Homo sapiens: one gene and its partners. The protein of the gene in region 1 interacts with the protein of each later gene in a biochemical or structural test. Each region holds a gene or a part of one and is shown in the gene's direction. Other genes may lie near its edges.

Region 1 (9,084 bases):
GTTTTGTTTTGTTGTTATTGTGTTTGTTTGTTTCGGAAGACTTAGGGGTAAGAGATATTTGAAAATTGACCTCTGGGGCCAAAAGGAATTAACTGTAGTACCTTGGGGAGATAGGACTTTTATCCTAGAAAGAAGAAGTAATTGTTGCTAAAATTGAGAGAATTTCAAGCCGTAAAATCTGAAGTTAACTCTCTGGGTTACAATAATTAATTTGCAAACATTTGTTAATTGCCTCCCGCATCTCAGATCCACTGTACCTTTGGATAGGGGACAGGGAATGTTGAGAAGGGTTGGAGGTTCAAAGAATGCTAAGTCTTAGATCCTGGCCAGAGGTGGATCATGATCTAGAAGGAGAAAAGAGGAAATATGTTACTAACTGTAAAAATAGTGAAAAATGATTAAGTGCTGAAAAAGCAGTATTCCTGCAGAGCTGTGGGAGTTCACAGGGTACAAAGTGACTTCTGATGGAAGAATTAGGGAAGGTTACATGGGATATAGCATTTGAGCTGTGATTAAGGTGGCATTTGGGTTGGCAGAGAAGGAAGGGCATGCTTGGGGGAGGAACAGTGTAGCACAGGCCTGGCAGTGGAAGGTGTATGCCTACACAGGAAACAAAAAAATGGTGTGCTTTGGCTGAAGCGCTAGGAATGCCAAGAGATGTAATGAGGGATAAAGCAAGAAAGAGAGGTTTGTTCAAGGTGGTGGAGCAACTTGTACGCCAAGCTAAGGAGTGTGGATTTTGTTCAGTAAGGACTGGGGAACTATAGAAGATTTGTGAGGAGAAAGATTGACAGTATCAGAACTGTGCTTTGGGGCAATACTTTTGTAGTATTATGTTGGATGGAATGACATGGGAAAAGGCTGGCAGGAGGGAGACCAGATAGACTCTATTGTCAAAGTAGGGGAAAGATGGAAAGAGGCAGTGGGAGGCAAGAAGGGAACACACCTAAGAGGTGGTGTGCGGGAATTATCTGAGGAGCTTGAACAGTCACTGGAAAGTGAGGAAGGGAAAAGGGAGGCCAAAAGATCATTGTCAGGCTTAGCTGAGAGAGCAGTTGGGTCATTTTCAGAAAGAAGATATAACAGAGGATAAGGAAGAGGAGAGAAGTTTCTTTTTGAGCATGACAGGCTTGTCCAAGTTAAGGGACTAGAATACAGAGGGAGGTTAGAGCTACCAGGAGATTTGTAGGTCATCTGCTTAGGAGCGATTTTCATATCCCAGGAATCACTGATAAAGAAAATGAAGAAAGAAGAAGCAAAAGTAAGGATAGGATCCTTGAGGGATGTCTGTATGTTGGAGGGGAAAGAGAAAGAAGAGGACAGGAACCACGTTAAACAAGGGGCAATTGGAGAAAAATGATGGAAGTGAAGTGGTACAGTGTCATGGAAGCTGGAAGGGGTGAGGAGAGCCCCTGTCACTCACACAGCACACCCCATGGGTGACGGTGCAACCAAGGCAAAGCCATTGGATTTGACTCTTGGATTTCCTTGATTGTCTTTGTGGTAGGTGGAAGTGGCAGCCAGGGGCAAGGGTTGAAGGGAGGCGTGGGGGAAGGGAAATGGAAAGCAGTGAAAACAGACTTCATTTTCAATAAGTTGGGAGATAAAAGAGAAGGAGAGAGAGTATGATATATCACAACAATGGTGTAGTAGAGGGAAAGTGGTATTTTTAGTATAGGAAGACTTGAGCCTGCTTTATAAGCTGAGGAGAACAATCCATTGAGGGAAAAAGAGATTGAAAATGTAAGGGAGAGGCTCAATTGAGGGAATTAAGTCTTCAAGAAGATGGGAGGATACTAGATGAAAGCAAAGGAAGGATTCTTTTGAGACAGAAGCATAGGAATTTTGAGGTGGAAAGAAAGGAATTTGGCCACAGTCTTTTAAGTGAGGTCAAAGAGAGGTGGGCAGGTTGAAGCCAGGAGTAGAATGACAAAGACTTGTGGGCATTGTGGAAACAGAGCAGTGAGTCAATTAGGAGTGAATAAAAGATCATTACCCAACCATGAGGACCTCATGTGTTTGAAAAGCAGGAATTTGTAGTGAAACCAATTAACGCTATATAATTGGAGTTTGACAACTACTTAAGTAATTTTTGTATAGTGAGCATTTAATCTCACTAAATACAGTGGTTCTTCATTCCCTTAAATGCAGTAAAAAGAGGAGAATGTTTACCTTTAAAATTATCCAAATAAAAGACTCCACTTGTATTTCCTGTAAATATTCTCTCTCAGAGATCTGAGCTAAATTTTAAGAAGTTTATAGTAAAACAATGGGGAAAAATGTAAGTGTTTTTTTAAAGGATGAGCTTTTTCTATCTGTAATGGTAGAATATGGTTTTACAGTGACGTACATGTAAAGTCAGTTTTCAAAAGAAAAATCAAATATAGCACCTCGCCCAATACCATACCCATCATATGCATTCAATATACATTTGTCACATGAATACATGAATAAACTTTTTTTAAGTAAGCTAGCAACAGTATCTAAAATTTTAAATTTCAGGATTTCATTCTTACACAATGGACATCGAATGAGTTGCCTTTTATGGCCTGTGCAAGTTTATGATAGCATTAAAACTATTTATTCATACCTGATATATACATTGAAGCTTTATTTTTAAAAACCCCACATTTTTCACAAAATGATTGTGAACCCTTTAGATCCTTGAGTTATGGGATTATGTCATGATTCCAGGTGAGTTTATGGAACTTCAACTGTAATGAGTGGTGATTTTGAGGTTTTAATGATGAAATTTATTCATTCCTTCAACATACACTCATTGAACACTTTCTCTGGGCCAGAAACTATTCTAGGTGCAAGGAATATGGGGTGGGGGGAGGCATGTCCTTAATATCACAGAACTTTTAGTGGAAGGAGATTAAAAATAAATAAATAAGTAATTACATAATATGCCAGGTGGTAAGTGCTATGACGAAGAATAAAAGAGAGAGAGCAATGGACTGATGATAGTGGGTGGGTGGGGGGTGACATTAGTTTATATAGTATGGTCAGGGAAGACCTTAAGCAGAAAGAGCTGAAAGATGTGAAGTAGTGAGCCCTGCAGATATTTGGGGGAAGGGTCTTCTAGGCAGAGAGGATATCAAAAATGAAAAGGCTGGATAAGAACATGTTTGGCATCCTCAAGGGACAGCAGGGAAACCTTATTGGTTTCCTTGGTTTACCTGGAGCAGTCACTTAGGGAATTCACAATAAAATGCTTTGCCTTTCATTTTCAATTGTTTGCCCATAAGGCTGTATTACCATCTACTGTATTTGGGCTGACCTATGAATCAGTACTGGGTTTATATAAAGATGAATATCCTCAATCAAATGTATTTAAGTTAGAAAACAATCATGCCTGTAATCCCAGCACTTTGGGAGGCTGAGGCAGGCAGATCACTTGAGGTCAGGAGTTCGAGAGCAGCCTGGCCAACATGGCGAAATGCTGTCTCTACTAAAAATACAAGAATTAGCCGGGCATGGTGGCGCATGCTTGTAGTCCCAGCTATTTGGGAGGCTGAGGCAGGAGAATTGCTTGAACCTGGGAGGCAGAGGTTGCAGTGAGCCGAGATCACATCAGAAAACAAAGCGTGATTCTGTCTGGGTAGTGATGAAATACTAGTCAGCTGGAAGTAGTTCTGCTCCTTGGAACTTACATCTCTTCTGTGTCCTGAATCTTCTTTAAATATTGCTCTCTTTTCTTCTTCCTTGTTTCATGTTCCATTCTCAAGTATAAGATCCTTGAGGCTAGAACTTTGTTTTGTTCATCTGGGTATACTCTATAACACAGACTGACTCTCTGCATTAGTAAGGGTTTATCAAATACTTACGGAGAGGAATTGATGAGAAATTTCCAAAGATTTAAGTAACTCAGGTGTAAAGAATGAGGGTAAAGCTCGTTTACCTTGATTTCTGCAGATAGGTAGCTGTTTTTCAAACAGGACACAGAATTGCCATAGGATGCTAAAGCAGTTTATGCATGCAGACCCTGAGATGAGGACTTGAGTTCAGAATAGTTTATCTGAGAGACAACCTCAAGAAGCACAAGTGAGAGAATGGAGAAAATGACACAGGAGAGGGAAGAAAGCCCATTAAGAGGTGAGTTAATGAGCAGGTTACCACGGTGGGCAGCTGAGGCTTGGCTCTGCTGGCATTATATAGACTGCACATTAGGATTGTCCACCAAGCAGTGGAGAAAGTGGGGTCTTTATCCACCATTTCCCTAGGGATATTAAATCTTCAGTACTTTAGGGCTGCTAAGATTAGCCTGAGCAAGCTCCAGAGACACCAAAGAAAGCTCTTGAGCAGAGAAGCAGAGAGGCAGAGCCAGGTGGAAGTGGGAAACTGTCAGTGTATTTGGAGACTGTCGATACAGCTATAGCTGAACTCAGAAGTGGACATGGGACCCCTGTTTAACACAGCACAGAGGTATCATAAAGAATTTTTAACAGATAATAATTGGTTTGATGGCAGTTATTTTAATTTAGGGATTTTAATGTATTGTGACAACTGCCTGCAGTTCTGTTCACTCACAAGCCAACTATTGGCCACCCTCAGTTATCTGAGGTGCAGAGTACTATATATGCTCATGTGTAAGATACGCTCTGTTATAGGGTGGCCCTCAGTTTTCCAACAAGAGCGTTTATAAAAAGACTTTATGTCAACTTGAATATGCATATTCTAGGAATATAGGCAAAGAGTGAAGTATCTACTTATGTTTAATTTATTAGTTTACTTTCATATAATTGAAGTCACATTATATAAAATTATTAATTTAGAAATATGACATCCTTCCATTCTCACATTTTATGAAATCATTTATTCAAATACTTCACATACTTTTTTGACTTTAGAGTCTTTGTCATGATTAGGCCACTTTTGTCATGTTCATTTCTATCTAACTTTTTTGAGATATAGTACTTCTTGAGTTTCTGTATGATGCTACCACCACAAACTTTATTCCAAACCCTGTGTGCTCATTCACTTAATGTAAGAACGTTTGTTTTATCCTTTCTTCCTAAAGGAGTATATTTATGATCTCTGCAACCCAGCACTTCTGTATGTCTTGTGTAAAGACATCCAAGACAAGCAATTGTAAAGCTCCTTCCCAGGAATATTTACTTCAATTGGTGTTAAAATCATGGCCTCCTTTACTCTGTATTCATTCAGTCATTTATCTTCTTTCAATTGCATAGCCTTCAGAAGTATCCCTATCTTGTGTTGATTGAGTTTATTTCCGGCTATCTTCTCCAAATAGTTCTTAAGTAACCTCTGAAACACACAACTCCTTTTCATGAAATCTGCAGTCTTACCAGGTAATATGTTTTTTCATGGTTTCTCTCTTTAAAATCAGTTGCCGTCACATCCAGCATTAGTGAATTACATGGCTTTCAATTTCTGTTATCTTGGAGGTAACAGGGTTTTTGGCATTCAGAAGAAGGTAATTAAGAGAATACCCCACAATATGGGAGACTTTGTAAGCATTTATACATAAGGCAACTTTCTCTTTTCTGAAATACACATTTTGGAGGACAGAATCTCATCTTTTTGTATATGTAAAGTGATCACAGGAGGTTGTCAAGGTATGGTGGCAAAACCAATCCCTACACACTAAGTTTCCTTTTCAGCCTCCTCTTCTGTTCCATGTGGATTAATTAGCATACAATTTGTATGAAAAATACAGCAAATACAGCAATGATTTATTTCCTAATGGAATTAATTGGCCACCATTCCAAATAATGTAATCGTTATGTTTCTGACTATTGATAAATTTTGTATCTCGAGATCAATTCTGCATTTATTAACAGGCACACTTTATTTTAAAGAAGGATAATTGCCAAAGTATGTATAAATTCCTTTTTCTTGTAAATTGTAGCATATTTTAAAAGCAGAGGACGAGCTTAGAGTCATTTAAGGAAATTCCACTTAACAAGAATAATTACCCCCTACATTGGCTATTCAGTGAATTTGGACTTTTATACTGGACTTTACTAAAGTGGGTTGCATTCTGTTGCAGTGGCTTTTACACACTTTTGGCCATGATTCCTGGTGAGAACACAATTTAGATGATAGGCTAGCAACATAGATGAATGTGTGTAAACACATATACACACACACATACATCACTGAAACAAGTTTCACTCAACAATACTTGTCCTTTATTATGTGTAATCCACCCTGATGCTTCCTATCCTATTCTCTTCTGTTCTGTATGTTTGCCAACCCACTGAAGTAATCTCTGCATTGGTGAACCCTAATATGCAGTTTAGAAAACACTGCTGTATTGTATTACATTTATCAGAAGAGTGTTTATTTTCTTATAGTATGAAATAATTTCATGTCAAAAGTTGTTTTTTCGTTTTTTGAATTGTTAGCATATTTGGATATTTGGTGGTATGGACAAATGATGCAGTAATCACAGAGAGAAACTTTATTTTTGAGTAGACATTTTGTTTCCAAAAGAAGAAATTACATTAGTGTGGAAAAGGGAAAGTGGAGTAAGAAGAATAGATTTGTTCTTAGATCTGTGGCTTTCTTGGGTTGTGGGGACCGTGTCAAGTCACTGGGCCACAACCTCCTTGCTGAGCTGGTTCCTCACGATTCTTTCCTGTCCTTCACTCTTCCTGCCCCTCTTCCTAGCTGCTGTCTCTTAGCCTCTAGAGTTCTGGATGTTTAGTTAAATTACTTAATTCTAAATTTTAACCTAATATTATTTCTTCCCAGATGTGAAAATAGTTTCTACGCCCACTTCCCTTCCAAATAACTTGAAAATATAAGAATCATTTTTCCCTGAGCTAGTACCTGGAAGAGTTCTCTCCTAAAGGAGCTAGAATTTGTTCTACAGATGAAATGTTTCCATAGTATTAGGTCATATGAAAGCTTAACCTAATCTTATGTTCAGGTATGATTGTGTTCTTTATGGCAGGCTAGCTATCAAAGTACACATAAATTCCTTTTTTAAAAGCTCAGCAGATTCCCCATCCAGTGACTAAAAACAAGTTACAAAGTGTCAGGCATTGCGCTAAGTACTGTACACAGCTAACTCATTTACTTCTCATAATGACCTAATTTACTCTTCATAACCACATCAGGAGAGAACTTATATTGCAGATTGGACTTTGAGGTTCTCAGAGGTTCCTCAGTGGCTACAAAACAGGACAAAGGGGATTTGCCTCAGGTCTAGGCACAGGAATGGGCCCAGACAGTTGCTGGTCCTGGAGTCTATTCTGTCCTCTGGGCCCAGCAGTAGCTTCCCATCCCCACTGCCCCATCTTGACTCTCTTGTTTATGATGCCTTCATCCTACTTGGGATGTCTGTGTGTGTGTGTGTGTGTGTGTGTGTGTGTGTGTTACTGTTTGTCTTAGTCCATTCAGTGTTGCTATAACAGAGTACCTGAGGCTGGGTAACTTACAAAGAAAAGAAGTTTATTTGGCTCACAATTCTGGTGGCTGGAGAGTTTAAGACCAGGCAGCTGCATCTGGTAAGGGTCTCATGCTGCTTCCACTCATAGTGGAAAGTGGAAAGACAGCGAGTGTGTGCGAAGAGATAACATGGTGAAAGAGGAAAGGAGAGAAAAACCAAGGAAGCCAGATTCTTTTTAACAATCCACTGTCTAGGAAACTATTCCATCCTTGCAAGAGTGAGAACTCATTCATCACTGCAGGAGGACATTCATCTGTTCATAAGAGATTCACCCCCCATGACCCATGCACCTCCCAATACTGCCACATTGGGGATTAAATGTCAACATGAATTTTGTGGGGATGAACCACATTCAGACCATAGTACTGTTGCACCGACATCTCTCCATTCTTGGCCCTGTGGGGTGGCAAGGACTCAGAATGAGCTGGAATACAGTGCTGCCATAATTAGCCATCAACAGTGAACAAGTCTCCAGGTTGGTCTGAGCCTCAGCTTCTCCAGCTACAAAAGGGGAAATGATGAAACCTGCCCTTCCCATCTCTTCCTGCACAGGGCCGCTGGGGTCAAATAAAATATGAAAGGGTACAGAAAAGTAAGGTAGATGTCTCACTTCCTTCATCATGACATTGAACGAAAGTGACTCCCTACCTAGTTCTAATAGCTAGTGTCTCTTTCCTCTAAACCAGAAGTTGACAAACTTTCTCTGTTTAGGGCTAGTAGTAAATAGGTTTTGTGGGCCATATGGTCTCTGCCACAACTCCTCCACTCTGCCCTTGTAGTGCAAAAGCAACTGTACACAATATGTAAACCTATTAGTGTGACTGTATTTCAACCAAAGTTTGTTTATGGATGCTAAAATTCAAATTTCATATCATTTTTGCTTCACAAAATGTTGATTTCTCATTTAACTTTTTGCAACCATCTAAAAACATAAAAAACATTCTCAGCTCCAAGGCAGTACACAAACAGGCAGTGGGATGGATTTGTCCCACGGACCTCAGTTTACTGACCCCTGATCTAAACTCTCACAGTGCTTTGTACCACTCTGGATTCCAGCAGCTCATGCTCATCTTTTCCATCTCTCTTGTCCTTTCAAAATATGCACCCACCCACACACTCATTTTTTCATCTCCCTTAACACTGAGAAAGATAATAGCATATGTATAGTATGCCCCCCACATGTATATTCTATATGCCCAAGAAATATTTATTGAGTAAATCAGGATTAAAAATCTGTTGCTTTTGTATGTTTCCTGTTTTTTCATCTTTAAAGGAAATTCCACCTATTCTCTAGTAAAGCTTTGGGAATGATTGAGTTAAGATTTTGTGATTAAATATAAGGCTTTGAGATTCTTGCCTTAAAGTATTTCCCCCCTCTGTTATTAACCATAAAAGGAAAAGAATGTCAGGGAGGACAGAGAGGAAAAGCAAACAGACAAACAAAACCAACATTTCAGCATGAAAAGCGCTTGTTAGATGATAACTAAAGTGGCCAGATGTTTAGCTTTGCTCCCTTGGGTATCCTGCCACTATAGGGAACTCTGAACCGGCTGAAGTGTTTCATGCCTCAGCTGCCAGCAGCCCTTGGTGATATGCTTTCCCCAAAATTTAACATGGGGGCCAGAACTCCATGCATTTGACTATAAATAAAGAGGACCTCA
Region 2 (8,977 bases), about 30 Mb from region 1:
TTAATGGAGTAGGCATTGATTATAATTTTCTCCTCTTCTGACTTTTCAATTCTTCCCAATTAGCCAGTGATAAGAAACTGGAAAGAAAATTTCAACTTGTTTACCATTCACTTGTTTTTTTTAACCTACTGTAGTTTGGAAGGATTAAATTTTAGGCTAGCTGATTCATTTCACAAAAAAATTTATAAAATTTATAATTCATTTCGCACAAAAAAAGTTTTAATAAAAAATATTTCCCTTTGTATTTGAGCTCAACTTAATTCCCAATTGGCCCTGAAATGTGAGAATTGTTTTCCTAAAATATTGATGGATGTCAGAAGGCCACAAGAAGTGAGACCTCATCTTTTTTGCTCTATGAGAACATCAATCTTTCTATTTCTGTGAAAAATAAGGAAAGGTAGGTGGACTCTGGTGATTTCCTGATGTTGAAGTTAATAAAAAGCTCCATTCAAAACTACGATATTCGGCACAATTAATCTTCCCTGTTAATATAAACAGAAGAAAGAGTAAACTATTTGACCTCAAAGCTCTGGTTTAATTTCTAGCAAGTACGATTACTTCGGTTCACAATTTAAAAAATAAAAGCTTTAGATTTCTATTCCAAGCCATTACTTGATAAATCATTCATTAAAGAACATGAATGCACAAAACAAAAATAAACTTTTTTTAAAAATTTGGTAAGTGTCAGTGTTCTAGGATGTGCTGGCCATTCTTTGTGGAGGTCCTCAGAACCACCCTCTACTCTTCCAGCCCCAGTGTCACCCTTCCTGCCCGAGTGTCACCCTTCCTGCTCGAGTGTCACCCTGCTCCCCTCCCAGCTGACTTCCAGTTGGTTTTGGCTAATGAGAGACACCCACAGAAACAGTAAGGTTTCAGAAGTCAGAGCTCAAAAAGTTTCTTCCCTACTCACTCCTGTTTCCAGGTTCTGACAAGAAATTCTTTTACTTCTATGACTGTGGCTCCTGCCAGACCTTTGTGTTCCCCGGCTGCTGCCTTCTGGGGATCTGGCAGCAACCGTTCCTCCCTCTGCGCCTCTGCTGTAGGTAGTAAAGGCTTTCTGCTAGTGCTTGTCTTTGGTTGCCACAATGTCACCTGGTGGGTCCCTTCACTTTTCTTTTCAGCCTGTCCCTTTAAACTATCTGAGCAAATCATGCTTTCTTTCTGGGCCTTGACTAATGCAGTAGTGCATTTTAAAAATCTGACTAATATCACATTGCATTGCTTAGAAAAATATCATAAGAAAAATAATTCTTTGAGAAGTAGCATATTTGTGAAAGTAGATCTATTTAGGAATTAAAATGCTATTAGATTGGCAGGCAAATGTTATATTTTTGTATTCTCACTCTATTTTCTAGAACTGAAAACTAAGTTCTAGCTTAGACTGCAATGCACACGGTATACTACAAAGAGAGATGATAAAATTGCAGGATGAGAGTATAAAGTACAAGGTAAAACCTTATTGAAACAAAATAAGCACAACTCTATGTACAGGTTGTATGTGTTTATATATAAGAGCCAAGGCCGGGTGTGATGGCTCACGCCTGTAATCTCAAGACTTTGGGAGGCCAAGGCGGGTGGATCACTTGAGCTCAGGAAGTTCGAGACCAGCCTGGGCAACATGGAAAAACCTTGTCCCTACCAAAAATACAAAAACTTAGCCGGGTGTGGTGGCACTCACTTGTTCTCCCAGCTTCTCAGGAGGCTGAGGCACAAGAATTGCTTGAACCTGGGAGGCAGAGGTTGCAGTGAGCGAAGATCACACCACTACTGCACTCCAGTCTAGGCGACAGAGCGAGACTCTGTCTCAAAAAAAAAAAAGAAGAAGAAGAGCCAAAACAAGGATACATAAGGATACATACCAGCCTGTCAGCCTGTTTTGTATCATTGGTTACCTCAGTGGGGTTGGGGTGATGGTAGTGGCAATTATTAACATTTTCTTTATACAATTCTTTTAAAAATGTTCCTTTTGTAATTCAAAATATTCAAGAACAAATTTCAAAAGAGTCTGTCTTAACAAACATTTACATTCTTATAATCCAGAAGCTAGTCATCAAACACACCTCAGTATCATCATTTGTTCCAATATAAATATACTCACTTCCTAAATATGTGCTATTGCAAAGTAGATCTTATTCCTTTCTTATTCTGGTTGAATCATACAACCATTATCCAGATTGAAATAAAAAATATAATTGTATTTATTATCCATGTTAAGGTTAAATAGAAGGTAAGAAGTTTCAAAGTTTAAATTGCATTATCATGGAAAGTAGGGAAGAAAGGAAATAAAGCAGCAACACATAAAACATTTATATTTGTGATATTCGATATTTTTTCTGGGACATCCAGTGTTCTAGTTACATCGGCCATCTCGAATTCATGTCTTCATTTGTTCAGTAAGTGTGTAGTGTGTGATGATTGTGACGGATGCTTCTCTACTAGGCAAAGTAATTTTTAGAGCCTCACTACTCTTAGTCTGCAAAGTTCATTGCCAGCATTATCACCACAGCAAGTGTCTATGCTGATTTAAATAATAACCATATAGCAGCAATTATAGCCACATAAAATGCATTTCAAGACACACATTTATGTTTAAGGACTTCAAGTCCCCTAACCAAACAACTTAAGTAGAATAAACCTAAATAAGTTTTAAGTCAAAAGCAGGGGAATCAAAACAATTACAAGCCTCCTGTCTTAGAAGAAAATGCTGATGCTTATTGGCTTAACCATATAAAATAGTGTATATACATTTACTAGACATGAACAATTTGGAACAAATTTTGAGTGTACCTATAAGTGTGTAAAATGTATATTTTATGTATTGGGAATAATATTCATAAATATATTCCTCCAATGTTGTAAAAAATGCATGCACCCTCACTACGCTAGTGATTTTACAGTTTAATGAAGCCATTTTGTTTTAATTGCAAATGTCTACCACCGTAGAAGTTTCTTGGCCTTTCTCCATTAAGCCTAACACTTTGAACACCCAAGTTCACTTTTTTTTTTTTTTGTCTTGAGACGGAGTCTGGCTCTGTCGCCAAGCTGGAGTGCAGGGTGCAATGTTGGCTTGCTGCAACCTCTGCCTCCCGGGTTCAAGCAATTCTCCTGCCTCAGCCTCCCGAGTAGCTGGGACTACAGGCAGGCACCACCACGCCCGGTTAATTTTTTGTATTTTAATAGAGACAGGGTTTCACCGTGTTGGCCAGGATGGGCTCCATCTCCTGACCTCTTGGCCTCCTCCGCCTCCCAAAGTGCTGAGATTACAGGCATGAGCCACTGCACCCGGCCAAGTTCACATTTTTAAAGACTCCATCTGATGCCTGACAAATTGGTATAATAATAGATTGACATTTGTTGTTTTACTCTAGGTCCAATTTAGAAAATGATTTCCATTTTCTCTCTTTCTGTCTCACTGAAGGCAACTGATCTGTCAATCAAAACTTTAGATTTATAATTTTTTCTGTAATAAAAGACGTGCTATTTACAGAGTTCTTGTGCAAAAGTAGTTTAAGTGAACCCAATTAATAATTCAAGAATGACTTTGTAAGATTCTTCATCTATTACATTTGAATTCATTTTACATTTTACATCTATTACATTTGAATTCATTTTAATGAAAAAGCCTTTCAAAGTTGTCTTTCTAAAGGGAAGATTAATACACTATTTCTTAGAGATACCATCTAAAAAAGTATCTTTCTTTCTTTTTTCTTTTTTGGAAACTCGCGGTGGTGGTAATGTGAGTGAGTTTGTCAATCTTTGCCCCTACTGTGAATTTGAGAAGCAGAGGAAGAGAAAAAGAGAAAGACCCCCCCCCCCGCCCCCTGCCTCCGCCCCTCCCTCTAGCACACAGTAGGCGCGCAAGGAGTGCAGTGTTAGCTGCTGCTGGACTGAGCTCCTCATCCTACACTTGCAGGGGTTGCTCTTTTGGACAGAAAGCTGGAATAAAACGTAAATTTTAGACTTCCACCAAGGCCAGGACTAGGGTGAAGGGACTAACGCACTAGTCTCAGGAGCAACTGTTAAGTAACGCTAATCCTGAATGAATGAAATAGTTTTAAAATTGAATGTAATCGCAAAGAAAAAAAAACCCATGATAGACAAAATATTAAAACTTTAAATAAAGGCTTGCACTCGCACAACCCAGGCTCACCGGCCTCTCCCTGCTCCTGGCCCGGTTTCCCAGCTTGGTTCTCTACAAGTCAGAATTCCTAGCAAAATCAAAGTGTGCGCGCGTCTGCCCAAGTACACGCCGCAGAGTTATTTCTGCCCCATCTTCCCTATTTGAACTCAAACAGGACAGCATTTTCCTGGGTGCAGCCCCTGCGTTGGGTGAACAGCGCAGTGATAAAGCCTGGCGTTCTCCACCTGCAGGCGGAGGCTGACGGCGCGGTCTTTGGCGCGAGTCCGTGCACCGCGGCCGCCCCGCCCCGGTGGGAGAGAGGGACGGAGGAAGCTGCCGGTATAACGGGAGGAGAGCGCCAGGCGGAGCTGGGGCGTCCCTCCCGCTCGCTTCTTGACTCGCGTTGCTGCCGGCCGCCTCCCGCGCCTAGTGTCCGGGACGCGCCTGAACCTGCCGCCTCCGTGCCTGGGGTGGCGCCGCGCGGCCCCGAGCGCTCCAGAAAGCTGCGGCGCGAGTCCGCGGGGCCGACCTCGGAGACGCAGCTGGGGCCGGGCGCGGCTTGGCGGGAGGGTCTGCAGCGCCGAGGGAGGCTGCTGGTGCGTGAGGAAGAGAGCTAGAGACTGGACAGGGGAGGCAGAGCAGCGTCAGAGCCGCGCAGGGGACGGGAGTGAGAGCAGGAGCGACGCAGAGCGGCCGTCGCCGTGCCCGGGTCTCAGGGCGCCTGGCTGAAGTGAGCATGGCTTCAGTGGCCTGGGCCGTCCTCAAGGTGCTGCTGCTTCTCCCCACTCAGACTTGGAGCCCCGTGGGAGCAGGAAATCCACGTAAGTACAGCAAATGGTTTAAAACTTGCGCTAGGCTGTCTGGAAAACTTTGTTTTTTTTTTTTTATTATCGGTAATATTTGGAAGTGGAATTGCAGAACATGCTCCTGAACATGAAGAACCTTAAAAAAAATTTGGAATTGCAACCCGAAAAAGACGATTTTGTTTACAATAGACTTTCCTCTTGTGGGGGAGTCTAAGATATACCATGCATGTTTTGACTTTTTAATCGATGTACTTGAATATTCATTGAGAAAGTGGACGTTTCTGTAAAACCTGAAAAGCATCTTAATAAGAGATTAGCGTGCAAATGCTGTCATTTATTCCTTTTTAGGATTGTAATATTTTGTAGGAATTAAGTCTAACAGGGAAAAAACTGGCAGACATTACATCATACTGCATCAACTTAGATGTTAGCAGCTTACAGTTTTGCCGACCTTGGCAGCTTCAGAGTTAAAATGCTAATTAACTTCCATGCAGTATAGGGACAGAGCGCCTGTAGGTGAAACTAAATTAATAACCTGTCCTAACTACTAAGGGAATAACACTTGAACACCCCTGTCAGGGGCTTCGTTTCTCATAGTAGAAAGTTCTTGCTTAAAGACAAAACTCAGCCAGTCATTTAGGTGATCTTGAAAATGATTCCTCTCTGGATGCTAATATTTTACATTATTTAATTTGCCATCAGGTTCCCTGTTTTTTATTTTCCTTAATTTGGTAAACACCTAGGAAGCCTTTATTTCTAGAATGGGCTATGATTCTAATGTAATGATGATATTCCAGACAGATGAGCAAAACATAATGTACCCATATTTTATCACACATAAAAATGTTTACACAACATTGCACATTTTTTTTTTGGCTTGGAGTAAATCTCTAGCAGAGAGTTGTCTTTCTTTCTTGATTAATCAAACCATGAGATTAGAATTTTTAAAATGTCTTCCTCTTCCTTCTCAAATCACTTTTATTTTTCTTTCAGTGGCATCTCCCCGCTGTCAGCCTCAGCCCTCTCCTACCAAAATCTCTTTCGAAATAAGTTCCAATAAACGCCAGTGGCCATGTTTGGAAATTTAGATTATTGCAGGATAACCAAGGGTAGCTTTCAGCAGTTCTCCTAAGCTGTCATGAAAAGTTTGCCGTAGCTCAGTGCTGTTCTGCCCGCGGGCTCAAGGGTGGGTTGGTTCTTCACACACAGGGCACGCACATGGGTTCATGAACTCACTGTGCATCATGATTCAGTTGCGCCTCAGTTAATCCTACACTTGGTGTGCCCTTCCAAAAAACAAGCTCCGGATTCCTTTGGTCAGATGCTGTACCGTGTTTCAGATTCAACTTTAATCTGCTTTTGTGAGAAGGCTTTGTGAATAAAACGTTGTTACTTAAATCAAAATCCTTGGGTCTTGTAATGGAAACTGCCGTTTGGCTTAAACAAACATATAAATGAGCTACTTATAGAAAGGCATGCTAGAGTAATTGACCAATCAACTGGCAAAATACAACAACAAAAAAAGTCACTAGAGGTCACTCTTACTATTGAATAAACAGGGCTTCAAAAAGACCTTCCTGGAGAAAAGCAAAGCAATGAAATCTGAGTGAGACCCTGCCACCACCTTTCCTGTTTTTGTTGCATAGTTGTGATTACTTTTTATTCTCAGGATTAGTTGTATTGGTAGTTATTTTGCTTGGAATCCAGTGGAAGGATTACAAAGCCCATAGAAATTAAGCTCTTCTCGTTTATAGTGAACATTCTTTTTGGAGGAGGGGAGGGCAGGGACAGATATTCCAAATGGACTCAGCACCAGACGGGACTCTCGCGAGTTGCTGAGTGACACGTGAAATTTCAATACTACTACTGTGGGTGTTTTCAGTCTTCTTTCGTTGATGAAACTTAGTATCCTCATATCTAATAAATTTTACTAATTTTAAATTACCTTTTAGATCAAGTAATTCTTCCAGATAAAACTATGTAACTGTAATAATTATACCACCTTCAATACCAAGAAGAAAGTCAATAAGGACATCTAAAAGTTTCCTTCTCATGTAGACACCATGAGTTGCTCACGTTATTCACAGCTGGTTTTCGAGAAGCACATTGGCCACCCACGAAGGCAACCTGTTGATGATGGCATGAAATGGCTCTTCATGGGAAGAGCTCTATAGGCCGGGCACAGTGGCTCGCGTCTGTAATCCCAGCACTTTGGGAGGCCGAGGTGGGTGGATCACCTGAGGTCAGGAGTTGGAGACCAGCTTGGCCACCATGGTGAAACCCTGTCTCTACTAAAAATACAAAAATTAGCCGGGCGTGGTGGCAGGCATCTGTAATCCCAGCTTCTCGGGAGGCTGAGGCAGGAGAATCGCTTGAACCTGGGAGATGGAGGTTGCAGTGAGCCGAGATCCCACCATAGCACTCCAGCCTGGGCAACAAGAGGAAAACACAAAACTCTGTCTCAAAAAAAAAAAGCTTTCTAAACATTTGGCATTTTGGGGATTATGTGCAGTTTATCTGAATGTTATTTGACCCGACAAATACATGGGAAAGCTTTGTTAGGAAGATTCTGCATGAAGGGAAATATTTTCCTAACTTCAGTGCCCATAGACTTGCAGTGAGTGAAAGGTCACTTACTGCTCTCATTGAGTCCCTGAAAACAGCAGGAAGCATCAAGAGAAAGATTGAACGCTGGGCACTGATCCCAGGGATACACAAACAAATGGCTGGGCAGATTTTGCAGAAATTCCTGTAACTGGTAAAATGCTGAGTAATAGCCTTTGATGTAACTTTTCAGTGGGTTAATTTATTCATTACTTAGCCTAAAACACTTTTAATTTTAATTGCCTCAATTTTTTCCCCTAAATGGTTATGTTTTGCAAGTTCGCCAGCCAGCCTGGGGAAAGAAGGGTAAGCCTACTATAGAGTGTGTGTGGGTTAGTTAGGAAACTCACTTAGATGTGAAATGTGTCAGGAAAGAGATCTCACAGAGTGTAGGAATAATTATTTTTACAGATGTTTCATTTTGGACCTTTTAGTAATACCATTTAAAGAGAGATTCTGCAGATGAGTAACAGACTCTTAATTTTAGTGTCAAATGGTACTCTATAAAAAATGGAGTTCAGGCCAGGCGCGGTGGCTCACACCTGTAATCCCAGCACTTTGGGAGGCTGAGGTGGGTGGATCAGTTGAGGTCGGGAGTTCGAAACCAGGCTGGACAACACGGTGAAACCCCGTCTCTACTAAAAATATGAAAAAATTTCAGGGCATGGTGGCAGGTGCCTGTGAGGAGGCAGTGAGCTGAGATCGTGCCACTGCACTCCAGCCTGGGTGACAGAGTGAGACTCTGTCTCAAAAAAAAAACCAAAAAATGTAGTTCAGTTGCCTTTATTCATTTTCACCAAACTCTATACAAACAGTACGGAGCATAAGTAGCCCATGGAAGTGATAATCAATTCCAAGACATTGGTTTGATCATGAAAAAAGAAAAATCAAATTACTTGGCGTTCTTCTTCCTCTTCCTCTCCCCTTCTCTTTTTGAACAATTCAGTCCAAGGTCATTCAGTTCAGCTTAGGCATCCATGCTGGGTAGTGGGGAGGCCCAGGACCGTGGCAGAGCATTCAGAAACCAGCAGGGTAAGGAAAGCATCCACAGTGTAGCAAGGGTGGGGACCTGGAGAGACAGGAGACAGCACTGGTGGTGACCTATAGCAAGTTGTCAGAGGTTGAGTGGAGTGAGGAAGGAGGCATTCCAGATTGACGGAGGCTAAGAAAACAAGGCAACTAAATACTACTCTGCATTAAATGCTTATGTTATAAAGGACATGATTGGGAATTGGTGCAACTTGAACAAGATTGGGGATTAAATATTGGAACTTTATCCATGATGACTGGGATGATCATATTATGGTTATATAGGAGAACATCTTTGTTGTAGGAAATGTACATTGAAGTATTCAGGGGTGATACAGCATATTAGCGTAGTTCTTCCATGTTTTCTGTAAATTGGTTTCAAAATCAAATGGTTACTTTAAAAAACCATTCAAAATTG
Region 3 (7,569 bases), on another chromosome or scaffold:
AAAGAACCTGAGACGCAGCATGTGCTGAGCATCAGGCATACTGTAGCCTGCTTTGGTCAGATTCAAGGTAGAAAAGCCATGACTTGCTCATTTCAGTTCAGGGAACATTAAATTAAGATGCCAGCTATTATGCTAGGTGCTACCCAGCGAGCATTACCTCAGTTTTATAAATGAGGGAACTAAGGCTCGGTGAGGTGAAGGCTGTATAATCAGTATGCAGTAGAATAGGGTGAAATCCAGTTGTCAGAGTCAATGGACAAAGGAAGCCACCTACCTCCATTTTCTGCCAGAGGCTGCTCTTCTGAAGCAGTCAGTTCCACATAGAATAGGCCCCTTGATGTTTCCCTCTCGCGATAGCAGGGGCCTACTCTGCTTTGTGGTTGGCTGAACTTGACTCTTGAGCCATGACTGCCATAGGGGTTTGGGGAAGATGGGGCAGGAGGTTAAAAGACAGACAAGGCACTTCCTCCCCTTAGTCAGGATTAGTCCTCTTCTCCCATGCACTTGTTCTTCCTGAGCCTCTGCAAGAGCCTGATTCTGCCTTTGTCTTCATCTCAAGGCTGAGGGCTTTGTCAGAGCTCAGAACTCGTGTGTATAGTTCAGCCTGACTTTTCTGGAAGGTCTCTGCCATACCTCTGTGGATACAGGACCCACCAGGAGCCGAGTGAACAGCTGAGAGGCTGTCTGCCCCTGGGGAGAGGTAGCTTGGGTGCCAGGACTTATTTGAAAATGGCTTTAGGATTGGATTAAGGGTGAAGGTTGGAAGAGGTTCTTGAATCTTCTGGTTGGCATGGGAGAGGGTAGTCGAGGCTTGTCCCAGCATTACTGAATTGCTTCCATCCGTAGAGAGCCCTGCAGCCCTCTTCTGCTATAAGAGTCTTTGGGCTTCACACCTGAGCCTTCTTGTGGCTATTTGGAGGGTGAGCCAGCCGGGGGTCCAGTGGTCCAGAGCTGAGCCTCAAGCCTCTCTTTTTTGCCTAGGAACCCCTGACTGATGCAGAAAGGATGAAGTGAGTATCTGCTACCTGAGATACTGCCCTGCCTCAACTCTGTCCCTCTTAGCTCCAGGCTAGACTGTTGGTACAGTTGGACTTTCCCTTGGATTAGGTAGAAATAAAGGTTGGGATGGGTTGTTTTAGGGACTCTGGGAGGAGTGTTGATGTTGTGGATATTTTTTCTGGAAAATGGGATTTTATTGTTCCATGGGCTTCAAGAGAGCGTAGAATCAGGAGGCGAATGGCTCTGAGGGCCCTGCTCTTCTTGCTAAGGAGCCCTTCCCCAGCTCCTGGCTCCTGTACCAGCTGCCACCCTTACAGCCCTTTAGCCACATGAGGCCTCTGGAGAGGAGGGCAGTGCTGGGCTGGATTTCCAAGAGATGAATAATGGAGAAGCCTGATTGTGCAGTGGGGAAACTGGAGCTGGGGGCTTGGTGGCCAGCTGACATGGGCTGTAACCAGAGACAGGCTGGGAGCCATATCCCTACCCCCAATTCTTTATTTCTATTCTCCGATAGTGAAGGGAGGCTGGACTGTCCCCTACCATCCCCTCTTCCTCCCCTGACCCTCCAACCCAGGCTGTGTTCCCAGGGCCAGCAGGCCTATGAAATATGCTGCCTTAGACTCAGACTAAGACTCCAGGAGTTTCCCTGTCCTGTTTGCCTGTCCTCATGTCATCCCTTCCTTCCTGAGCCCACTCTGGAGCTCCAGGGCATGCCCTTCTATCTCTCATACCCCTCTGCCCTTGATCCCACAACACCCTGCCAGGCTCTTACAGGAGGAGAATGAAGAGCTTCGCCGGCGCCTGGCCTCCGCCACCAGACGCACTGAGGCCCTGGAACGTGAGCTGGAAATTGGGCAGGACTGCCTGGAGCTGGAGCTGGGCCAGAGCCGCGAGGAGCTGGACAAATTTAAGGATAAGTTCCGCAGGTGTGGGAATGAGGGGCCAGACACACACACACACACACACACACACACACACACACACACACACACACACACTCTCTCTGTCTCTCTCTCTCTCTGTGTCTCTGTCTCTCTCCTTTCATAGGAGGTTAGCTGGAAGATGCCTTAGAGATCATCTAATTCCTATTAAAAAACTGGATAAGTTCTGCAGGTGTGGGAATGCGGGGCCACACACACACACACACACACACACACACACACACACTCTCTCTCTCTCTCTCTCTCTCTCTCTCCTTTCATAGGAGGTTAGCTGGAAGATGCCTTAGAGATCATCTAATTCTTATTAGAAAACTGGATAAGTTCTGCAGGTGTGGGAATGCGGGGACACACACACACACACACACACACACACACTCTCTCTCTCTCTCTCTCTCTCTCTCTCTCTCTCCTTTCATAGGAGGTTAGCTGGAAGATGCCTTAGAGATCATCTAATTCCTATTAGAAAACTGAAGTTCTTGAGGGAGAATGACATGTTCAAGATCCCCTATCGGGGAGGCTGAACAGAGCCTGAAGAACAGGATCTTGACCCAGGGATGTGCCTTGTATTATCCCTTTTCAGGCTGCAGAACAGCTACACGGCTTCCCAGCGGACCAACCAGGAGTTGGAGGACAAGCTGCACACACTGGTAATCTGTCTGGGAGGGCAGCTTGGTGGGCACTGTGCTCATAGCATAGCAGGGGGCCAGGATTTGCCAGGGGAATGCCACTCTGCCCTGGGGCTTGAGGGAGATGGTGGGATGGGGCAGTGGTGGGGGTACTGCAGTGTGCTCTGCAAGTCAAGACTGTCTTAATGCTCACACTGTTTCTCTTCTTTCCTCGTCTCCCCCTCATGCTGCCACCGTTGCTGCTGCACTCTCCTCTCAGGCCTCTCTTAGCCACAGCTGGATTTTTGCAGTTGCGTCTGAGTTTGTGTGTCTTCTCCCTTGCCCTGGCCTTCTCCTCAGCTGAGATCTGGGATTGTGGGCCCTGGCTGTTACCCTGTGCCCCTTGAGTACACCCGCTCCTTTCTCTTCCCTGTATGAGGCCCGTTTAACTGTCAATGCCTCCCTCCCAGGAGAGAGGTGGGGAGCCTAGCCTGCTCTGCCCTTGGCTCTGGTAGAGGTACTGATTGATGTCTCCACTGAACACCCAAAGCTTCTTGGCTCCAGTGGCAGCAAGCCCAGGCTGTGGGAGTGGGGAGGGGAGGCTGCAGATCCAGTCCCTGAACTGGAGATCAGAAGGCTACTTTTGAGCCTGCAGCTTGCTCCCTGCTCAACAAGGTGCCCTGGCTGCCACCGCGCCCTGCTTCCTCTTCCCTCTCCTAGCCTGATGCTGGAAACAGCTGCACACATAGGAGGCTTCAGCCCCCTGGTTTGCAGTTACTGCCGTTGAGGTACCAGCTGCCTTGCCTGGTGCCCAGAGCCCCTGGAACCTCAGGGGATGGACAGCTCTTATACTGCCTGTGTCCTGGGCCCAGGTGGCAGGAAGTCATGCTAAGAAAGCCCCCACCCCACAGCCAGTCCAGAGAGCGGGAGAGATGCCCAGTCTCCTTCTGTCTGTCCGTCATTTGTCTCTGCTCTGTCCGCCTTGGCTGCCCTAGCACCTGTGGCCTCTTGTGTCTCCAGGATGGGAGGAGGTGGAGGGAGAGGAAGGGCTGGCTAGAGTGTGGGCTGGGTTAACCTCAAGTCTGTGCTTCAGATCAAGAAGGCTGAGATGGATAGGAAGACGCTGGACTGGGAGATTGTGGAGCTGACCAACAAGCTGCTGGATGCCAAGAACACCATCAACAAGCTGGAAGAGCTCAATGTATGTGCGCTTCACTACTCGGGCCTTCCTCACCTGGGGCTAGCTTTGTCCTGGCTCGGCCCTGCTTCCTTGGAGAGGGCTGGGCTGGGCTCTGAAACAGGTCTGTGTCTGTAGGAGCGGTACCGGCTGGACTGCAACCTGGCTGTACAGCTCCTCAAGTGCAACAAGTCCCACTTCCGAAACCACAAGTTTGCCGATGTGAGTAGAACTCACCCCCTCCCTGCCCACATAGACCATTCCGGCCACTGTAGGACTCCTCTAACTCCAGTTTCTGCACCTCTCTCTGTCCTCCTCTTCCCACTTTGCCCTCCTCTTGCCTCCATGTCACCTCTCAAGCCAGTCAACTCTGCCACTGGTTGGTGTCCCGTGTACTGTCCAGGGCCCATCACTAGTTCTGGGGGGCCAGCCCTGTTGGTTTCTGTAACAGAGACAGAGAGAGAAGATCCTGGGCAGGAAGGAGAGGGTAGTCAGAGCTATCTGCCCAAAGAGTACTAAGAGAGGATTAGGCCCATCTGATCATGTTACCCCAAGGGGTAAACTCTAGACCCCACAGCTTCAGGCCCAAGGTTTATGTGGCCTGCAGAAGTAGAAGAAGTAGAGGTATTTCTTTTTTTTTTTTTTTTTGAGACGGAGTCTTGCTCTGTCACCTAGGCTGGAGTGCAGTGGCACAATCTCGGCTCACTGCAACCTCCGCCTCCCGGCTTCAAGCAATTCTCCTGCTTCAGCCTCCCAAGTAGCTGGAATTATAGGCGCCCACCACCACGCCTGGCTAATTTTTTTGTCTTTTTAGTAGAGATGGGGTTTCATCGTGTTAGCCAGGATGGTCTCGATCTCCTGACCTCGTGATCCACCCGCCTCGGCCTCCCAAAGTGCTGGGATTACAGGCATGAGCCACTGTGCCCGGCCCAGAAGTAGAGGTATTTCTAAGGCTACTGGTCTATGCAGATTCTCCAAACTTAAGTATGGTTTGGGCAGAAGCTGGGAGATAGAAGTTTGAGAACATGCTGGCTGCAGCAGCAGATCCGGGTTTAAATCTTGGCCAAGTTAACCAAAGCTTTGAGTTGTCTTCCCCTCTCCAGGCCTATGTGTCTGTGAAGTGAGGGTATACACACTGGCATGCTGTAAGAACAGGAGATAGCAGAGTGCTGAGTACACAGAGGTACTTAAAGGTGGGAGCCATTACTTTCGCCATGAGTCAAGTTATCTTTGGCTGCGATCATTGATGTCTCTCTTTCCTGCTCTTTTACCTCAGCTGCCCTGTGAGCTACAGGACATGGTTCGGAAACATTTGCACAGTGGTCAAGAGGCCGCCAGCCCAGGTCCTGCTCCCAGCCTAGCCCCAGGGGCTGTGGTGCCTACCTCAGTCATTGCCCGAGTGTTAGAGAAGCCGGAGTCTCTACTGCTCAATTCAGCCCAGTCAGGCAGCGCCGGGCGCCCCTTGGCTGAGGATGTCTTTGTGCATGTGGACATGAGTGAGGGTGTCCCAGGTGATCCAGCCAGTCCCCCGGCCCCTGGCAGCCCCACCCCACAACCCAATGGGGAGTGCCACTCTCTGGGTACTGCCAGGGGCTCCCCGGAGGAAGAGCTGCCCCTGCCAGCCTTTGAGAAGCTGAACCCCTACCCAACCCCGTCTCCACCACACCCACTGTATCCTGGCCGCAGGGTAATAGAGTTCTCTGAGGATAAGGTTCGGATCCCCCGCAACAGCCCCCTGCCCAACTGCACTTACGCTACCCGCCAGGCCATTTCCCTGAGCCTGGTAGAGGAGGGGAGTGAGCGGGCCCGCCCCAGCCCAGTGCCCAGCACCCCTGCCTCAGCCCAGGCCTCACCCCACCACCAGCCCAGCCCAGCACCCCTAACACTCAGTGCCCCAGCTAGCTCTGCCAGCTCTGAAGAGGACCTGCTGGTCAGCTGGCAGCGGGCATTTGTGGACCGTACTCCACCACCTGCTGCTGTGGCCCAGCGCACAGCCTTTGGACGCGATGCCCTCCCTGAGCTGCAGCGCCATTTTGCCCATAGCCCCGCTGACAGAGATGAGGTGGTCCAGGCACCTTCTGCCCGACCCGAAGAGAGTGAGCTTTTGCTACCCACAGAACCTGACTCTGGCTTTCCCAGGGAGGAAGAAGAGCTGAACCTGCCTATCAGTCCTGAGGAAGAGCGCCAGAGCCTGCTGCCCATTAACAGGGGCACAGAGGAGGGGCCAGGCACTTCCCACACCGAGGGCAGGGCCTGGCCACTCCCCAGCTCCAGTCGCCCCCAGCGCAGCCCCAAGAGGATGGGGGTTCACCACCTGCACCGCAAGGACAGCCTGACCCAGGCCCAGGAGCAGGGCAACCTGCTCAACTAGGGCCCCTGCTGGCCTTCCTGCCATTGCTGCACCAGGACTGCAAGGAGTCCCCACACCTTGGCAGCTCAGGGTCCCCAGTCCAAGCCCTTGACCTCTCCTCTATCCAGACCCGCACAGCTGTTTCCTGTGTGGATGGGGTCAGGTTGTGGGCCATGCCAGGCCTGTCAGCTGCGTTGACTGACTGCAGCAGCTTGCCTCATGGTTTTCCCTTTTTCTTAGAATATTTATTCTTCAGAGGTAACATGCAGTTGGGTCTCAAGACCTTTCCTCCAATCAGCCCAACCCAGCCCAGACTGGGCTTTTCTGGGGAGCTGAGGAGTTTATCAGTATTCATCTTCCATCCTTTCATAGTCACAAGTTTTGTTATTTTGTTTTTTTTTGGGGGTGATGGTGTAATTGTTAACCTCATTTCCGTTTCCTACCTGTTTGCTTCCCCCCCCAGTCCTCCGCATGAGCTGTTGCCCTCCAGGGGCCTGGCACAGCTGGCCTTGGGGACGAGGGAGAGGACTGATTCAGGGCCCCCTCAGCTGTCTCCTCCCTCCCTCTGGAAAGGAGGGTGGGGCTCAGGGGCCTCAAGCTGGGCTCTGTGTGAGGCCTGGCCCCCACTCCCAACCTTGGCTCTAGACTGTTACTCTTAAGCTTTGAGAAATTTTCACATTGATGACTATTTTAAAATCAAATAAAACTATTTTACTGGTATGGCCTAACTTGTCTTAATGACCTCCCCTCTCCCACTTTTCTCCCCATTCATAAGTATTCCCAGTCCTAGTCTCATCCTAGTCGGCTAGTGACTCCCCCTCGCCCCACTCTGCCTAGGGTTTCCCTAGGCACAGAGCATCAGGGAGCGGGAAAGGGGGCACCTTAAGTAACCTTAGCAGGGTTCCTGAGTCTTCCCTCGGAGGCAGGGACCATATCTTTATGGGGCTAGTGTAAGGTGTTGCCTCAGAGGCCTGGGTTCTAGGCCTGGCCAGGCCTATTTTGAGATCCTGGACCAGGTCACGCAGCTTAGAGCTTGGGCTGTGCGATGCTACTGCCCCCTAGTGGTGCTTACTGGTAGTTCCAATTCCTCCCCTACTGCCGGCCCCAAGTGACTACAGCCACACGACAGGTTGTGGAGTTCATAAAATCTTTTCCGAGCCAGCGGGTTGCAGCCAGAGCTGCCAAGTTCAAAGGCATTGCCGTGGGTTCAAGTGCCCCCCAAGGCTGTTGCTCAGTCACAGCTTCCAGAGCTTCCTTCCCACCACACTGCCAGGAGCTGCCAGAGCCCCCATGCAGCCCCTGACCCCAGTTCCCTCCCAAGTCCCAGGGCCTGACCCTGATATCTGGGGCAAGGTGCTCGGGACATAGATAAGTGAAATGGTGTGCAGAGGCCCAGTGGAGAGTCACATCTCGGTCTCAGCCAACAGACTGTCCCCTAGTCCTGACGTCATTAGCACCATCTGAGAGCTGGGATCTGTGGAAGGGCAGAGAAGTGTT
Region 4 (5,419 bases), on another chromosome or scaffold:
TAGGTCCAGCCCACACTCAAGGGAGGCACATCATAGAGGCCATTCGCCTCATGCAGCCTTGAAAGATGATGGGCAGGAAGTAGGCATTGAAGAGGGTAAGAGTGGGATTGGCAAGCCCAGCAAAAGAAACTGCCCGGGCAAAGCCCTCAAGGCATGGAATGGCAGGGAGTGTTTCTGAAGGGCAGGAGCCTGTCTTGTGACCTGTGTTTTCTTCCTGGGCCCCAGGTGGGGCAGGGAATCAGAAGGGGCTGGCATCAGCAGCTGTACCTCACCCAATCCCTTAACTTAGACAAGGAAGAACTGAGCAGGAGCTGACCAGCCAAGGCCACGGTGACTGGCAAGTTGCTGTTGGGTTTTAGCATCTGCTTTTCCCAGGTGGAAAAGAATTCCATGTGGGAATTTGCATTCAAGCCTGGTTGTCCCTTGCACATCTCCTAACTGATCTCTAAGCTCCCTTCTGTTCTCTCCTCACCCTGCTCCAGTCTTTACTTTTCATAGACTGCACTAGAAGGATTGTTCTGAAGCCTGGAGTAACCAGGCCATGCCCCTGCCTGAAACTTGTCTTGGCTCCCAGTGCCTGAGAGTACAAGCTGGGCCTAGCTTCTTGATGTGGACATTCAATACCCCACTCCCCCTGCCTATTGCCCCTGCCTGTGTGCTGAGGAAACAGCCTGGAAAGGCTGCCTTTCCCTGAACTCCTGCTGGGTCATGCCTCCAGCCACACTGTCCAGGCTGCCCCCTGCCTTGAGGCCGCTCCTCCAGCCGGGCACAGTGGCTCACGCCTGCAACCCTAGCACTTTGGGAGGCCGAGGCAGACGGATCACTTGAGTTCAGGAGTTCGAGACCAGGCTGGCCAATATGGTGAAACCCTGTCTCTACTAAAAATACAAAAATTAGGCCAGGTGCAATGGCTCATGCCTGTAATCCCAGCACTTTGGGAGGCTGAGGCGGATGGGTCACTTGAGGTCAGGAGTTTGAGATCAGCTTGACCAACATGGTGAAACCCTGTCTCTATTAAAAATACAAAAGTTGGGCCGGGCACAGTGGCTCATGCCTGTAATCCCAGCACTTTGGGAGGCCGAGGCGGGCAGATCACAAGGTCAGGAGATCGAGACCATCCTGGTTAACATTGTGAAACCCCGTCTCTACTAAAAATACAAAAAATTAGCCAGGCGTGGTGGCGGGCGCCTGTAGTCCCAGCTACTTGGGAGGTTGAGGCAGGAGAATAGCGTGAACCTGGGAGGCGGAGCTTGCAGTGAGCCGAGGTCGCGCCACTGCACTCCAGCCTGGGCGACAGAGCAAGACTCCATCTCAACAAAACAAAACAAAACAAAACAAAACAAAAGTTGGCCAGGTATGGTGGCGTGCTCTGTAGTCACAGCTACTCGGGAAGCTGAGACAGGAGAATTGCTTGAACCTGGGGGGTGGGGAGGTTGCAGTGAGCCCAGATCGCACCACTGCACTCCAGCCTGGGCAACAGAGTGAGACTCTGTCTCAATAAATAAATAAATAAATAAATAAATTAATTAATTAAAAGAAATACAAAAACTAGCCAGGCGTAGTGGCGCGTGCCTGTAATCTCAGCTACTTAGGAGGCTGAGGCAGGAGAATTGCTTGAACCCGGGAAGCAGAGACTGCAGTGAGCCGAGATCACACCATTGCATTCCAGCCTGGGCATTGCAATGAGACTTTGTATCAAAACAAAACAAAACAAGCAAAAAAAACCGCTCTTCAGGGCTCTGTATCCCCTCCCCCTTCTTGATCTTTCTACTGTTCAAATCTCCAACGCAGGGCGTAAAAAAAAGTACCAGGTGCAGGCAGCAGATATCCCTCTGGAAAACGAGATAAAGCAGAACTGCCACTTCTTCCTGCCCATCAGTTGGTGGCACAGTGAGATGCCTGGTTACTCAGCAGCAAGGTCATGGGAGCCCACCTGTACTGGCACAGGCACTTGTTTCTGCCCAAAATGTCAGGTTGGGGACAATTTATTTGCACAGATGTGGGTTTCTGTGGCTCACTAGTAAGGCCTTGTCACCCCAAAACACACCAACTGTTGTATTCACCCTGTGTGTCATCACCCCTAGTCTGTTCTGTATCTGGGCCCCCACCATGTTCTGAGTCCCTTGAGGATGGTGACCTGCATACTCCCTGCCATGTTGGGTAGTGTGTCTGACCTAGGAGGTGCTCATAGGTGTGTTATGACAATTTTTATTACCGTCAAAGGAGAAGGAGGGCAGAGCCAGCTTCGAGGGGCTAGGACAGGCCCTTTGCCCCTTGCATTTCCTTCTGTTCCTGGAATCTGGGAGTCAGGGAAATGACACTGGCTGCCTATGATGGTCAGGGAAGCCAAGCTTGGCCAACTTAAGCCTATAGGAATTGAAGACAGCCAAGGGCTCACAGAGCCATCAGGAGGCTGCACAACTGAGCTAACTGGAGGCTGAGAAGCAGAGCTGGGCAATTGCCTCGCCGGAAAAACAGTCTGATCCAATGGGAATGACTGCACAGGCAGGGGAAACTTCCACTGGCTCTTTTCAGCCCACTGTCATCCTGCCCAGGATTTCAGTTCCAGGGAGGGAGTGTTCAGATGGTCCGGGACTTCCTGGACCACTTTCCACTTCCAGACAGGGCCAAGAGGACCTTGCCTGCCCAGTCCTTGGGGAGCTCAGATCCTACGAGACTGGTACCCACAGGAGGAAATGGGTACTTTAGGGAAGCAGGAAGAGGCGTCGGAATCAGGAAATCAGAAGATAGCAGCTTGGCACCACGTGGCACACATCCCCTATACACACACTGGATCTCATTCCAGCACCGCGGAGACCTGGGCAATGTCCGTGCTGATGCTGACGGCCGCGCCATCTTCAGAATGGAGGATGAGCAGCTGAAGGTAAGGTGGAAAAGAAGGTGGGCACCCTTCCTAACAGGGTCCATCATCTGAAGCTGTCGTCTCCCCTCAAAGGTGTGGGATGTGATTGGCCGCAGCCTGATTATTGATGAGGGAGAAGATGACCTGGGCCGGGGAGGCCATCCCTTATCCAAGATCACAGGGAACTCCGGGGAGAGGTGAGTGGTGTCGGCCCCTGTAGGAGGCTGTGCTCTGCGGATGGTGCATGAGGAACCCAGGGGTGGGGGCCAAACAGGTACCCACCCCTGACCACACATTCTTCTGCAGGTTGGCCTGTGGCATCATTGCACGCTCCGCTGGCCTTTTCCAGAACCCCAAGCAGATCTGCTCTTGCGATGGCCTCACCATCTGGGAGGAGCGAGGCCGGCCCATCGCTGGCAAGGGCCGAAAGGAGTCAGCGCAGCCCCCTGCCCACCTTTGAGCAGGACCTCACCTTGGCTCTGTTGCTGTCCTCCAGGGCGAGCACTTTCCACTTCCAGAGGGGGCCAGAGGGACTTTGCCTGCCCAGTCTTTGGAGAGCTCAGTACAGGGCAGGAGCTGCTGTGGTGTTCCCTTGGCAAATGAAAGTTTTATTTTCGTTTGGGACTTGGTGTTTTGTGCTTGTCTCCATGCCCCTTATGGGCTTGGTGAACATAGCTCTGCTTCTTTCCTTTGTATCAGGGCCACCCCTTAGCATTGGAGCCAAACAAACCTGAATTCAAACCTACACACACACTGAAGTCCCCATCTTCCTCCTTGGAGCCATAATGAAGAGCCACTACAGTCAAATTTCTGTTTGTGGCCTCCCCCAACCCCTCACTATGGCTGATTGGAACCAAAATGGACACCTGACCCATGGTGGCCCATGCTTTCCCTGAGAAATCAGGGCAGATCCAGCTTTAGTTTTTTCCTGTGGTTGGACCCATAACATGGGAATATGGGAAGTTTTGGTGGCCCTCTTCTCCCTGCCTTATTGACTGAGCATCAGAAAAAGCCAGTCGGCTAAGGAGGAAAAATGAGGCAGGGAGAATCTAAGAGTTGCTGGAGAATCCCAGTCACTCTGGAGTCCCCTCTCTGAGCCTTTCGTGAGGCCAGCTGCCTCCTGCCTGGGATTGAAGAGATGCTCCCGAATCCTCCTAATGCATCCCCCTGTTAAAATAATCTGGCTTGAGGCTGGGCACGGTAGCTCACACCTGTAATCCCAGCACTTCGGAAGGCCAAGGCGGGAGGATCTCTTGAGCCCAGGAGTTTGAGACCAGCTGGGGGAACAGAGTAAGACCCTGTCTCTACAAAAAAAAAAAATTTAATTAGCTGGGTGTGATGGTGCATGCTTGTGGTCCCAGCTATTTGGGAGGCTGAGGTGGGAGGATTGCTTCAGCCTGGGAGGTTGAGGCTGCAGTGAACCATGATCACGCCACTGCATTCCAGCCTGGGCAACAGAGCAAGACTCCATCTCAAAAAAAAAACAAAACCAAAAACAAACAAACAAAAATCTGACTTTATTCCTTTCAGTCATAAGTAAAAATTATCAATTAACATAAGTGAAGTGCTTGGCACACAGCCTGTCATATAAAGTTAAGGGAGCAGCAGCTATGATTCTGAGGCTGCGTGGGACCCTCGGAGGCAGCCCTAGCCAAGCTCCCCTTTCCTATGGTTGGATGAGCTGCTAACCAGGGTACAGTTTGTGGGGCCTCGGGTTCAGAGCCTCCCTACTCGTCTATTATTTCCCTGTACCCCCATCCCCATGGGGTGCCTTGCTCATCCTTGACAAAGCTGCTTTTATGACAGGGTAAGCTGGCAGACTACAAACTTTGCCCCAAGCTGGCAGACTACAAACGTTGTCCCTACACTGCCTGCTTGGAACTGGGTGGGTGGTTTCGCAGTTAGTTGTCCTTGGCTTCGAGGCAGAGCCCCTGGCTCGGATCCCATTCCCCAGTCCCTGTCTGTTTTCCCTTTCAAGGCTGTGGGTGGGTTCCACCTCTAGCCCCAACCCTTGGACTCTGCTCTTTCTTGCCAAACCTATGCTGGTTCTTTTCCAGCTCCCTGTGGTTGCTGGGAGCCAAACCCTTTTAAGCCCAGACTCAGGCTGTCTTTCCCCACTTCCAAGTCATTGCAGAAATTCATCCTGGATTCTGCCCACAGCTAACCCCTGACATCCTCTCACCTCCATTCTGGAATGATGCCTGGGTTTTAACCTTTTTAAGCCTAAACGGTTCACCATGACACGACTCTATTAGCCTCTTTTTTTTTTTTTTCCTTTTTTTGAGACAGAGTTTCACTCTGTTGCCCAGGCTGGAGTGCAGTGGTGCAATCAAGACTCACTGCAGGGTGGATGCAGTGACTCACGCCTGTAATACCAGCACTTTGGGAGGCCAAGGTGGGTGGATCACTTGAGGTCAGGAGTTTGAGACCAGCCTGGCCAACATAGCGAAACCCCATCTCTACTAAAAATACAAAAGTTAGCCAGGTGTAGTGGGATTACAGTGCCTGAAATCCCATCTACTTATGAGGCTGAGACAGGAGAATTGCTTGAACCCA

The links.
Region 2: the proteins of APBA1 (region 1) and CNTNAP3 form a complex in vitro, tested with the Homo sapiens proteins (one study listed by BioGRID).
Region 3: the proteins of APBA1 (region 1) and TJAP1 interact in a test that uses a peptide from one of them, tested with the Homo sapiens proteins (one study listed by BioGRID).
Region 4: the proteins of APBA1 (region 1) and CCS form a complex in vitro, tested with the Homo sapiens proteins (one study listed by BioGRID).

Annotation. Positions count from the first base shown.
Region 1 is NC_000009.12:69,660,288-69,669,371, reverse strand, and holds part of APBA1 (amyloid-beta A4 precursor protein-binding family A member 1), read left to right. Parts: intron 1-9,084. UniProt on the Homo sapiens protein: Putative function in synaptic vesicle exocytosis by binding to Munc18-1, an essential component of the synaptic vesicle exocytotic machinery. May modulate processing of the amyloid-beta precursor protein (APP) and hence formation of APP-beta.
Region 2 is NC_000009.12:39,283,944-39,292,920, reverse strand, and holds the start of CNTNAP3 (contactin-associated protein-like 3 isoform 1 precursor), read left to right. Parts: upstream 1-4,753; 5' UTR 4,754-4,856; coding exon 4,857-4,941; intron 4,942-8,977.
Region 3 is NC_000006.12:43,499,763-43,507,331, forward strand, and holds the end of TJAP1 (tight junction-associated protein 1), read left to right. Parts: intron 1-981; coding exon 982-1,010; intron 1,011-1,763; coding exon 1,764-1,925; intron 1,926-2,520; coding exon 2,521-2,587; intron 2,588-2,825; coding exon 2,826-2,855; intron 2,856-3,638; coding exon 3,639-3,746; intron 3,747-3,860; coding exon 3,861-3,944; intron 3,945-4,825; coding exon of another isoform or gene 4,826-4,846; exon of another isoform or gene 4,847-4,905; intron 4,906-4,998; coding exon 4,999-6,093; 3' UTR 6,094-6,792; downstream 6,793-7,569. Other genes in the region: LRRC73 (leucine-rich repeat-containing protein 73), read right to left, coding at 7,476-7,546. UniProt on the Homo sapiens protein: Plays a role in regulating the structure of the Golgi apparatus.
Region 4 is NC_000011.10:66,602,533-66,607,951, forward strand, and holds the end of CCS (copper chaperone for superoxide dismutase), read left to right. Parts: intron 1-2,806; coding exon 2,807-2,884; intron 2,885-2,956; coding exon 2,957-3,060; intron 3,061-3,169; coding exon 3,170-3,323; 3' UTR 3,324-3,487; downstream 3,488-5,419. UniProt on the Homo sapiens protein: Delivers copper to copper zinc superoxide dismutase (SOD1).